Homo sapiens: one gene and its partners. The protein of the gene in region 1 purifies or fractionates together with the protein of each later gene. This does not show direct contact. Each region holds a gene or a part of one and is shown on either strand. Other genes may lie near its edges. The genes, in order: TLR2, CLEC4M and LY96.

Region 1 (3,750 bases):
TGCTAATAGCTTTGTGGACAGTGTACAACTACCTTCAATATATGCAGAGGACACTGATTTGTGGCTAAATAAATGATTTCTATCTGACTTTGCCAGACAATTCTAATTGACTTTGGGATTATAGAGCAATAGCATCAAAATCCACCTTAGGCAGTTCAACTAGGGAAGAGAAATAGAGAAAAAACAAGTTTTTAGTTTCAGGAGAAATAATTTGAAGGAAGTTTTCTTTTGTCAGAAATCACAAGGTAGAGAGCTGGAGATTTGGAATTAATAAGAAAGCATTTTCAGCCAGCTGGACAACCTGATGGTCAGGATAAAGAAAAATAGTAAGATAGTGACCTGTATACAAAAACCTCTCAATTTCATATTTAGGTCTATTGATTAAGTTTCCCTGATGTTCCAACCATCAGAGAGGATTAGGGATGTGGAACAGGGTAGGAGAAACAGCCCTGGATTTAAGGTAAAATTCTGGTTTCAAATCTCAGTTCTGTCATATGTTATACAATTCACATGACATTTTCTTGTGTAAGGGAGGAACAAGGATGCTTGCTCTGCTTCATATCTCACTTTGTGAAAATCAAATGTAATTATGAACATAAAAGGTAGATTATTAACATTAAGGCAGTTGAATTTTAAAAGCTTGTTTTCTTCCCTTATACATATTCCTAACCGTGGAGACAGCTAGGTTCTGTGGCAATGAAGAAAATTGATCAATGACTGTTTTTGGTATTACTTTGGGAAGTAGGGATGGAATAGGGGCAAGGGAAGGGCTTAGCTTCAAACTGTAGACAGAAGTGGGAAGCCCAAATCTTTGCATGGTGAGAAGTGGGATGGAATGTAGGTGCTAGAGATGGTGCACCAGTAGGGACTGTCACTGGATTGGGGAAAAAAATCCGGGGCTGTCCTTATCTGCTCCCTTAGGCAAAATCGTTCTGTGTTAGTCTGGAGGGTGAACCTATTTTAATGCAGGAGGGCATAGACTTTTGGGTGGAAGCGGACCCTGGAGATGTACTGGCAGGTGAATAGAGTGTGGAAAAGTGGGGAAAGGAGAAGCACGATTCATGAGCCTGAGTTCGGGCTTCCATGGATGGAAAAGCATCAGGAGTGGAATTTAAAGACGGTGTGTTTCAGGTGATGTGAGGTCCTGGATGCCCGAAGCTTCAAGAAAATACTGGTTGGGCACTTAGCTTTCCCTGTGGTTGCCAATCCCACGCAGGCCGCCTCTAGCGTCTCGATTCGCTTTTCTCTGACCTGGAACCTCCGCCAAGCCCCCAGCTCTCTTCTTCGACCCAGCCTTGCACGGGGCAGCTGTCGGGGCAGGACCCGCCTCTGGCCTGTCGCAGCCTAGCTCACGGTCAAGGGCGGGAGCCTGCTGGGAAGCACGGCCGCGGGGGCTCGCTCGGGGCCACCTGCCTGGAACTCAGCGCGAGGTCCAGAGTTCCCTCCGGCTGCGCAGCGGCGCACGTGCCCCGTGGAAGGGGCGGTTCCCGCACCCCAGAAGGAGGGGGCGCCCGGCCGCGCGGACTTTCCCTTTTGCTTACTTCCTAGTCCCGGGCAGGCCGGCTCGGAGGCAGCGAGAAAGCGCAGCCAGGCGGCTGCTCGGCGTTCTCTCAGGTGACTGCTCGGAGTTCTCCCAGGTACGTCGTGCGCTCCCCACTCGTGTGGTCTCTCTGCACCCCTTCCTGGGGTCGGGTCGGGCAGGGGCGGAGGGGAGCCGCAGCCCGGTCACGGGCTCTGGGGAACCCGGGCTCCCGTTCGGCTGCACCTGGGCCCCTAGCTCCTGTCCGGGCGGGGATAGCGGGAAGCGCACCAGGCCCCCGGGACGCCGGTGCTTCTTTGCACGGCCCAGCGCGGGAATGTGGACACCAGCGAAGCCGGCTCAGGTCGGCCCTCGGGAGAAGCAGGGGCTACACGGAAAGGGAGCCCGAGGGTCCTGCAGAGCCCGAGGTCGGGACCCCGCGCGTGCAGTGCCAATGGGCTGCGGCTGGGCTGAGCGCCCTTCCAACCTTGCAGGCCCCGGGGGGGTTGCCGCGGAGAGCTTCCGCTGGGGCTCCGGGCCTCTGGCCGCCACCTCCCTCGGGAGGCCGAGGGGGGCGGTGGCCCCGGCCCGGCCCTCCCGCTTCCCTCACGGCCTGGCCCTCCCGCTTCCCTGATTCCCGGTAGGGTCGCTCTCCCCGCCTCCTGGCCCCTCTTGGCTCGGATGACAAAGATTGGGTAAAGGCTTTCAACGAGCTAGCGTCTGGCAGGGGGTGTGTCCTCGCTCACTGGTTACTGCTAGGACGGAGCTTGGATTTTGGTCACCGTGGCTCAGAGGTGGGAAAGGTTCCGTGCTCTGGGTCTGTCCAGGACCCTGGCTCCCTAACCCAAGTCTGACCTCTGCTCCCTGGCAGGCTTCGCCCCACCTCTGCGTTCCTTCATTCTTAGGATGTGTGAGTTAGGTCTCTGATTAGAAAACAACTTACAGCGTTTAAGCAAAGTCGAGTCCTTCAAGTAAGAATGCTTTGAAGTGCCCTTTACAACTTCTTCAACTTCTATAAATATGAACTTGTGTTTAGAACTTAAATGCAAGCCAGGAAAGTCTTTTTCCTGTTTGAAAGAGAGAGAAAGAGAGAGAAAGAGGTGATTGGAAGTGGTGGGTGGGGGCGGAGAAAGAGAAGGAGAGTAATCTGGGTGTAGACAACTCAAAGTTTGCTGAGATGACTTTAATCTTTTGACTCTGTTATTAAGATTTTTACCAAAGAGCAACTGTAGCTATGGTGGCCTGACTTGAAGGGACAGACCAAACAAACAACAAAACACAAAACAAAACAAACAAACAACAAAAGCAAGAGCAGAAACTATTGGAAAATGATTTATTCACCAATATTTTAAAGGTTCTTCCTGTTCTAAGCAAGGAACATCTTTAAGTTCTTTATAATGTACCCATTTTACATTTACAAAAACTGCCAGAAGTTGACAGCATGTTTTGGGGGTTTCTAAGCTATCAGTTAATTTTTTGGGGTACAGTTTTATTGATAAACTAACAGAGTAGAAAAAATCTAATGGAATACCCCCAAATTTAAAAGAGGGCAAGAAAAGAGAGACAATAGAACATAAAACAAATGGGACAAGAATAAAGTACATAGTTGTCACAGTCCCTTGGGTGCTGCTGTAACAAAATACCTGAGACTGGGTAATTTACAAAGAACAGAAATTTATCCATTCATGGTTCTGGAGTCTGGGAAGTCCAAGATTGAAGGGCTGCATCTGGTGAGGGTCATCTGGCTACATTATAACATGATGGAAAGCATCACATGGTGAGAGAGAGCAAGAGAGGACAGAACTTACTTTTATAACAAACTCATTCTCACAATAAACTGCTCCCTTGGTGATAACATTAATCCATTTATGAGGGTACAGCCTTCATAACCTAATCACCTCTTAAAAGGTTCCACCTCTCAGCTCGCAGTGAGCCGAGATCATGCCACTGCACTCCAGCCTGGGTGACAGAGCGAGACTCTGTCTCAAAACAAACAAACAAACAAAAATTCCACCTCTCAACACTGTTGCATTGAAGATGAAATTTCCAATACATGAGCTTTGGGGCACACATTCAAACCATAGCAATAGTTCAATTACTTTAAAGCCCAAAATGTCAGTAATTATATTAAATGCAATTTAATACATCAGTAACTAAATGAGATAGACTAAATTTTATGATAATCAGACTAATATTATCAGACTAGACTTCAAAACAACCCAACAATCATA
Region 2 (3,750 bases), on another chromosome or scaffold:
GAGAGCCAGGTTCTTCCCCTCCTCCTCCTCCCTCTCCTGTCCTGCTCTAGAGTGGGGAGGGGCTGTGGGAGAGGCCCCTACAGACCCCCAGGGACAACATCTTGGCTCTCAGTCCCACCTCCCTCCCAGACCTGGCCACTCCAGGCTCTGTTCATAGCCAAAAGGCCAGGCCTGGGGACCCCAGACCCTCAGAACCTGCCCCTGACCTTGGACAAGGATGGCCACCAGGACCCCAGCCAAGAGCATGAAGGAGAGGAGTTGCAGCACCAGGGCGCCATGGCCAAGACACCCTGAGAGAGGATACATGCGTCAGCCTGCCAGTGTTCCCACCTGAGCCTGGCCCAGGGAGAGCCTGGCCTAATCCCTCAGCACCCCAGGACCCAGGAACCCCAGCCCCAGCCCCCTCCACTCCAACACCTGGGAATCCAGGCCCTAGCTCTAACCTCCCCAGGACCCAGGAACCCCATCCCCAGCCTCTCCCTCCCCAAGTCCCAGGAGTTTAGGTCCCAACCCCCACCTCCCCAGGTCCCAGGAACCCAGGTACCTGCGTCCACCTCCCCAGTGGAACAGGAATGAAAAGAAATTAAAGAATGTGTAAGCAAAAACTCAGTTGTATGTAAGAAAACCCAATTCCCCCTGAGGAAGAGAAAGAGGTGGAATCCTTTAAAAATTAACTGCCTTTTTGGCCAGGCATGGTGGCTCACACTTGTAATCCCAGCACTTTGGGAGGCTGAGGCAGGCAGATCACAAGGTCAGGAGATCAAGACCATCCTGGCTAACACAGTGAAACCCTATCTCTACTAAAAATACAAAAAATTAGCCGGGCGTGGTGGTGGTGGGCGCCTGTAGTCCCAGCTACTCGGGAGGGTGAGGCAAGAGAATGGCATGAACCTGGGAGGCAGATCTTGCAGTGAGCCGAGATGGCGCCACTGCATTCCAGCCTGGGTGACAGAGCAAGACTCTGTCTCAAAAAAAATAAATAAATAAATAAAAATAAAAACTAAATAAATAAAATAAAAAAGAATTAACTGCCTGTTTTTCTGTGTGTGGCTAGTGAGCCTTATCTCTCCCTTTCCCAGGCATTGTGAAGACCCTGTTTCTCTAGCTGTGCAGCTGCAAGGTCACTAGGCAGATAAACTCAAGTTGTAAAACATGTTTTTCCTTGAAAAATAAGAAATGACGTAATGCATGTCTCAATTGAATAACTATCTTTGTTTCTCGCTTCTGTAATATGCTTCCCCCTGCACAGATCTCCCCCTACCCCATGAAATGCTTAAAAGGTAACTTGACTCTTTGTTTGGGGCTCAGTCTTTTTGGATGTTAATCTGACTGGGCTGGTGCACCTAAATAATAATAATAATAATAAATCCTCCTCAACCCCTTGATCTCTGTGATTCCTAAATTATCCTGCAACACCAGGACTCAGGCATCCAGGTCCCAGCCTCCACATCTCCAGGTCCCAGGAGGAACCCAGGCCCAAGCTCCCACCTCCCCAGGTCCTAGGAACCCAGATACCTGCTTCTACCTCCCCAGGACCCACGAATTCAGGCCCCAGTTCTCACCTTCCCCAGGACCCAGTAATCTGGTCCCAGCTCCCACCTCCCCAGGACCCAGGATTCCAGTCCCCAGTTCTCACCTGCCCCAGGACCCAGGAATCCAGGCCCCTTCTCCCACCTCCTCTGGTTCCAGGAGTCCAGGCTCCAGTCCCTACCTCCCATGGACCCAGGTGTCCAGCTTCCAACCCCCACCTCTGTAGGTCCCAGGAGTCCAGAACCCCTCTCCCACCTCCCCAGGCCCCAGGAACCCAAGCCTCAACCCCCACCTCCCCAGGTGTGAGGAGTTCAGATCCCTACCCCGTCCTCTTCAGGACCCAGGAACCCAGGTCTCAGACCTTCCTTCCCCAGAACCCAGGATTCCAGACCCCAACACCTACCTCCCCAGGACCCAGGGGTCTGGGAGGCTCTGTCTTCCACTATCTGCTCCCTAACTCTTGCCTACCTGTAGAGCTCTTGTGGCCATGTATCTGCTGGAATTGAAAGTCTCTTGGAAAAAGTCTGATGCCACTGGTTGTTGGATCTTCTTCTGAATTGACAGACATCAGCTCAGAGCCTGGGCCATCCCTTCCCCTTACCCAGGATCCCAGAGTTCCAACCCAGCCTTACCCAGGAGGCCCAGCTGCTGCACCCTTGGTTCCTTGGAGTCACTCATGTTTTCCCGCTGTCCCCAGATGTTCAGGACTCCTGGGGACCACAGCTTTTATTTTCCACCCTCTGATCCTCACTTTCTAAATCTACTGTCTCTCAGGAAGACAAACAGGAAGCTGGGTAAGATCACATCACCAGAAAGGCTAGTGAAAGGAGTCAGAGCCTGAGATCGGCCTGACCTTGCAGGAATTTCAGGGAGGTGTTGGGGGATGGTCTGGGGTTGACAGGGAGAAGGACTCCTCCACTCATGACATGGTTGAGCGATGGGATGCTTTTAATAAAATTCAATTCATTCTAATGGAAAGCGACTTTGTTATGCCTCCCTACGTAGGGCAGGGGTGGGCAGGCAGTACCGCCTAGTTCCTGGAACCACCATGCCCTCTGACCTCCAGGATCTGCTCTTTTGGTCTGCGGATGCTCTCATTCATGGGAATTTCCTTTGTTTTTGGGAGTTGGAGATGAACGATAGTTGTTTATTTCATACCTATGATAGGCACATTTCCAACAGCTTTATAAAACTCCTTCATTTAACTTTCCTACCCTGCAGTAGATCATGTGACCTCCAGTTTACAGATAGGGGAAAATAGAGGCACTGCGAGATTAAGAAACTAGCCCAAGGTCACACAGCTGGTAAATGGTGGAGCTGAGATTCGAATCCAGGCAGTTTTCCTCCACACTCCACCCAGTTAACCAAAGAGGGTCTAATAACATCAAGGGCAAAATAGAAAGATTTATAGTAACTTTAGTTAGACTATCCCAACCCAAATTGGAACAACCCATGTGGCCACCAGCAGGTGAATGAAAACAAATATCATGGCATATTCAGAGGGTGGAATTCTATACAGTAATGAAAAAGCAAAGTACTGATACAAACAACAATTTGGATGAATCTCACAAGAGTTAAGAAACCCAAACAGAATGAATACATTCTGTAAGATTTTGAGTTTACATGAATTTCAAGAATAGGCAGAAGAACTAACCTTTGATGGGACTCAAATTGGGGGCTTTCTGGAAGGAGTGGGTGTAAACTGACCAGAATGGGGTAGAAGGAAATTTTCTGCTGACAATGTTCCATATTTTTTTCTGAGAAGTGGCTGCATGGATGAATTCATATGTCAAAATTTCTTCTCTTTCTTTCTTTCTTTCTTTTTTTTTTTTTTTTTTTGAGACAGAGTCTCGCTCTGTCACCCAGGCTGGAGTGCAGTGGCTGATCTGGGCTCCCTGCAACCTCCGCCTCCTGGGTTCAAGTGATTCTTCTGCCTCAACCTCCCGAGTAGCTGTGACTACAGGTGTGCGCCACCACATCTGGCTAATTTTTGTATTTTTATTTATTTATTGGAGACGGAGTCTCGCTGTGTTGCCCAGGCTGGAATGCAGTGGTGCAATCTTGGCTCACTGCGACCTCCACCTCCCAGGGTCAAGTGATTCTCCTGCCTCAGCCTCCCGAGCAGCTGGGATTACAGGTGCATGCCACCATGCCTGGCTAATTTTTTTGTATTTTTAGTAGAGACGGGTTTCATCATGTTGGACAGGCTGGTCTGGAACT
Region 3 (3,650 bases), on another chromosome or scaffold:
AAGAAGGTCCTTTGCCCTGCATTGTCACTGGACACCACAGTGGTGCTGTCTTGTGCTTCTGTGTCTCCAGGAATTCCTTATGAAAATGGTCTTTCAACTTCTACACACAGCACTGCTTTTGGAGAAGTTCAAGCCCAAGTCCATGGAGTAGGCCATGGGATCACTGTTTGAAACAGACGCCATGATATTCTTCTCCACACCCTACCCTGAAAGTTGAGAAGTGAAGACAAATTAGGAAAGTTGGTGGTGCTTCAGGTTCAGAGCAATGAGGGCCTACATGAAGGCAGCGCGGTAATGGGGATGAAAAGGAGGTTAGAAAGATTTACTGGGACTGGGAATTCTAGTGCCAACTTGGTGATGAAGAGGAGGAAATCACTTTTAGATCTGTTGGGTGAGGTAACTGGGCAACATTTGAGTAGAGATATTGAATAAATACATGGGATCAATGCTCAGGAGAAAGGTTGAGACTAAAGTTGACTTGAGAATTGTCACCTTATGTGGTACTTGGCCTGAGAGAGTGTGCAGAGTGAAAACTAAGGAGAACTGAGGATAGATCCTGGAGAAATCCAGGAGTCGATGAAATAGACTGAGGAAGAGGAGTCAGAGAGATTGGAGGACACCTGGAAGGGAGTGGTTGCACCAACACCAAAGAAGGTTTAGGGAAAGGAGCAGGCAGTTCTGTTAAGCATAGCCAAGTTCAAATTAAAGTTAGAAAAGTTGTCTTTTGATTATGGTTACAATGAGTCATGGTGATCTTACTAGGAAAATATTTTCAGTGAGGTAGTGGTTGCAAAATTGTTTTCTTTATGAAAAGGATTGTGCATCTTTTTTGGCCAGGCATGGTGGCTCATGCCTGTAATCCCAGTACTTTGGGAGGCTGAGGTGGGTGGATCACGAGGTCAGGAGTTCAAGACCAGCCTGGCCAAGATGGTGAAACCCCATCTCTACTAAAAATACAAAAATTAGCTGGGCACGGTGGTAGGCGCCTGTAATCCCAGCTACTCCAGCGGCTGAGGCAGAAGAATTGCTTGAACCTGGGCAGCGGAGGTTGCAGTGAGCCAAGATTACGCCACTGCACTCCAGTCTTTCTCAAAAAAAAAAAAAAAAAAAAAAAAAGAAGAAAAGAAAAGAAAAGAAAGAAAAGGATTGTGCATCTTTTTCATTTGGGCCAACTGAATAAGTTGGAAGAGTTGAGAAAAATGCATTGATTACTGGAATTTTTCATGGTAGCTGGAAATAGGGAGATCATGAGGAAATTAAAAAATAGGCATACATTTAATTTTTCATCAAAAGATTCTATTTTATTCTCAAGAAATCTTTCATCAGAACTCCTAGAAAGTTGACTGTCTCACTGTCCTTCCTTTCCTTTTCTTTTCTTTTGAATTTTCTAGCAGAACCATAGAACTAGACATTTTATGTCTTTATTTGATAGTTTTCTCAATGAAGTTATGAAGGCTCTTCTGTTTTTAGGCAGAGCATGCATAGTTTTACTGTGGAACATTGTATTTGATTATGATTTACTAGTTGCCCTCTCAGAACTTCAGTTTTCTCATCTGCAGAAGAAGAGTAATAATTGACATCTTGTAGATAGTTGTGATGATTAAATGAAATAATGTAAGAAAAGCACAGGGCCCCTTTTAACTATACAATAAATGTTAATTACTATGTATAAAAGAATCTACTATTTGAGGGCCTAATGGGATTTTTTCTTTTAAAGGGAGAGATTTAAAGCAATTATATTTCAATCTCTATATAACTGTCAACACCATGAATCTTCCAAAGCGCAAAGAAGTTATTTGCCGAGGATCTGATGACGATTACTCTTTTTGCAGAGCTCTGAAGGGAGGTAAGTATTCAGTTCATATTACTTTTAGAATAGGAAATAATTCTTTATGAAAATGTTATGAAAATTAAATACATTGAAAATGGGAAGTTCCTTTTCTGCTAATAATTCTTTTTCCATCCAAAGTTTTTACTTTAGCAGCTTAAATAACATTTTATAACTATATACTTGAACTGTTAGGATGACACTTACATGATTTGTATTATTAATATTTTTCATAGTAACCCACCAGATTTTCTATACAGTCCTTGGTTTCTTTAGTGACTTCTGCCTTTATGTTCCTCCTTGGAATTATTTACAGAATAATAACATTCAGAAATTAGGACCCTTACAGAGATCTTGCACCAAGGGATAAAAAAATAAAAAATAAAAATGAATAAAAAAAAGGAATTACCACTTTAGAGCTATATTCCAGCTTTTCCATTTACCAGCAATGTGACTTTTGGCATGTTATTAATATTTAACCTTTCTTGGCCTCATTTTCCTCAGCTATAAAATGGGAAAGTAAAACACATCATACATAGTTTTAAGAATTAAATTTGAGAATGTATGTTAAAAAAAAAAGCCTAGTACAGTGTTCAGAATAAGAATCCTTCTTTTGTTATGAATTTTCCAGTCCTGTCATCTTTATAATGAGGGAACTGATGTTTGCAGTGGCTTAGTAATGTGTCCATGGTCATTTGGAGAACTAGTAACAGAGCAGCATCCTAACTCTAAGACATGACTCTCCTACTGTGTCATGCTTTCTCTTTGGAAAAAAAAAATCCCTTAGCAGATTACTGTTTTTTTTTTTAATTGTGCATTTCTTTTACACAATCTCTGTGGAATTACATTGATATTTTACCTGAATCTTCAAAGTTTCTCTTTCTTGAGACCTCAGAGGTGTCAGACTCAAATCAGCTTGTCTACTTCTTCTCTCCCTCCTCCCACTTTCTTCCATAAACATCTATTGAACCTAATTTGAGCAAATCGTGATTTACGTTCTGGTTATCTGAAGTTGAATGGTAGGATCTCCTTCCTCAGAAAGTTACTCTGGGGAAAACTGGATTGCCATATGCAGAAGAATAAAACTGGACCCCTAGCTCTCACCACATACAAAAATCAACTCAAGATGGATGAACAACTTAAGCATAAGATCTGCAATTACAAACATACTAGAAGAAACCTAGGAAAGATTCTTCTGGACATTGGTCTAGGCAAAGAATTTATGACAAAGATCTCAAAAGCACAGGCAATAAAGACAAAAGTAGACAAATGGGATTTAATTACATCAAAAAGCTTCTGCATAGCAAAAGAAATAATCAACGGAGTGAACAGACAACCTGTAGTATATGAGAAAAAATTCGCAAACTATTCATCCAACAGGGGACTAATATTCAGAATGTACAAAGAACTCAAGCAACTCAACAGCAACAACAAAAACAAATAACCCCATTAAAAAGTGGGAAGAGTGGCTAGGCGCAGTGGCTCACGCCTGTAATCCCAGCACTTTGGGATACCAAGGCAGGTGGATCATGAGGTCAGGAGTTCGAGACCAGCCTGGCCAACATAGTGAAACCCCATCTCTACTAAAACTACAAAAATTAGCCAGGTGTGGTGGCATGCGCCTGTAGTCCCAGCTACTTGAGAGGCTGAGGCAGGAGAATCGCTTGAACCCAGGAGGTGGAGGTTGCAGTGAGGCGAGACCATGCCATTGCACTCCAGCCCAGGTGACAGAGTGAGACTCCATCTCAAAAAAAAAAAAAAAAAAAGTGGGAAAAGGACATGAATAGACACTTATAGATACTTTTCAAAAGAACAGATAGAA

The links.
Region 2: the proteins of TLR2 (region 1) and CLEC4M purify together in Homo sapiens (affinity purification with western blotting, with the first as the bait; one study listed by BioGRID). This does not show direct contact.
Region 3: the proteins of TLR2 (region 1) and LY96 purify together in Homo sapiens (affinity purification with western blotting, with the first as the bait; one study listed by BioGRID). This does not show direct contact.

Annotation. Positions count from the first base shown.
Region 1 is NC_000004.12:153,682,724-153,686,473, forward strand, and holds the start of TLR2 (toll-like receptor 2 precursor), read left to right. Parts: upstream 1-1,556; 5' UTR 1,557-1,637; exon of another isoform or gene 1,638-3,750. UniProt on the Homo sapiens protein: Cooperates with LY96 to mediate the innate immune response to bacterial lipoproteins and other microbial cell wall components. Cooperates with TLR1 or TLR6 to mediate the innate immune response to bacterial lipoproteins or lipopeptides.
Region 2 is NC_000019.10:7,761,725-7,765,474, reverse strand, and holds the start of CLEC4M (C-type lectin domain family 4 member M), read right to left. Parts: upstream 2,233-3,750; 5' UTR 2,209-2,232; coding exon 2,163-2,208; intron 2,083-2,162; coding exon 1,999-2,082; intron 291-1,998; coding exon 207-290; intron 1-206.
Region 3 is NC_000008.11:74,008,284-74,011,933, forward strand, and holds part of LY96 (lymphocyte antigen 96 isoform 1 precursor), read left to right. Parts: intron 1-1,717; coding exon 1,718-1,846; intron 1,847-3,650. UniProt on the Homo sapiens protein: Binds bacterial lipopolysaccharide (LPS). Cooperates with TLR4 in the innate immune response to bacterial lipopolysaccharide (LPS), and with TLR2 in the response to cell wall components from Gram-positive and Gram-negative bacteria.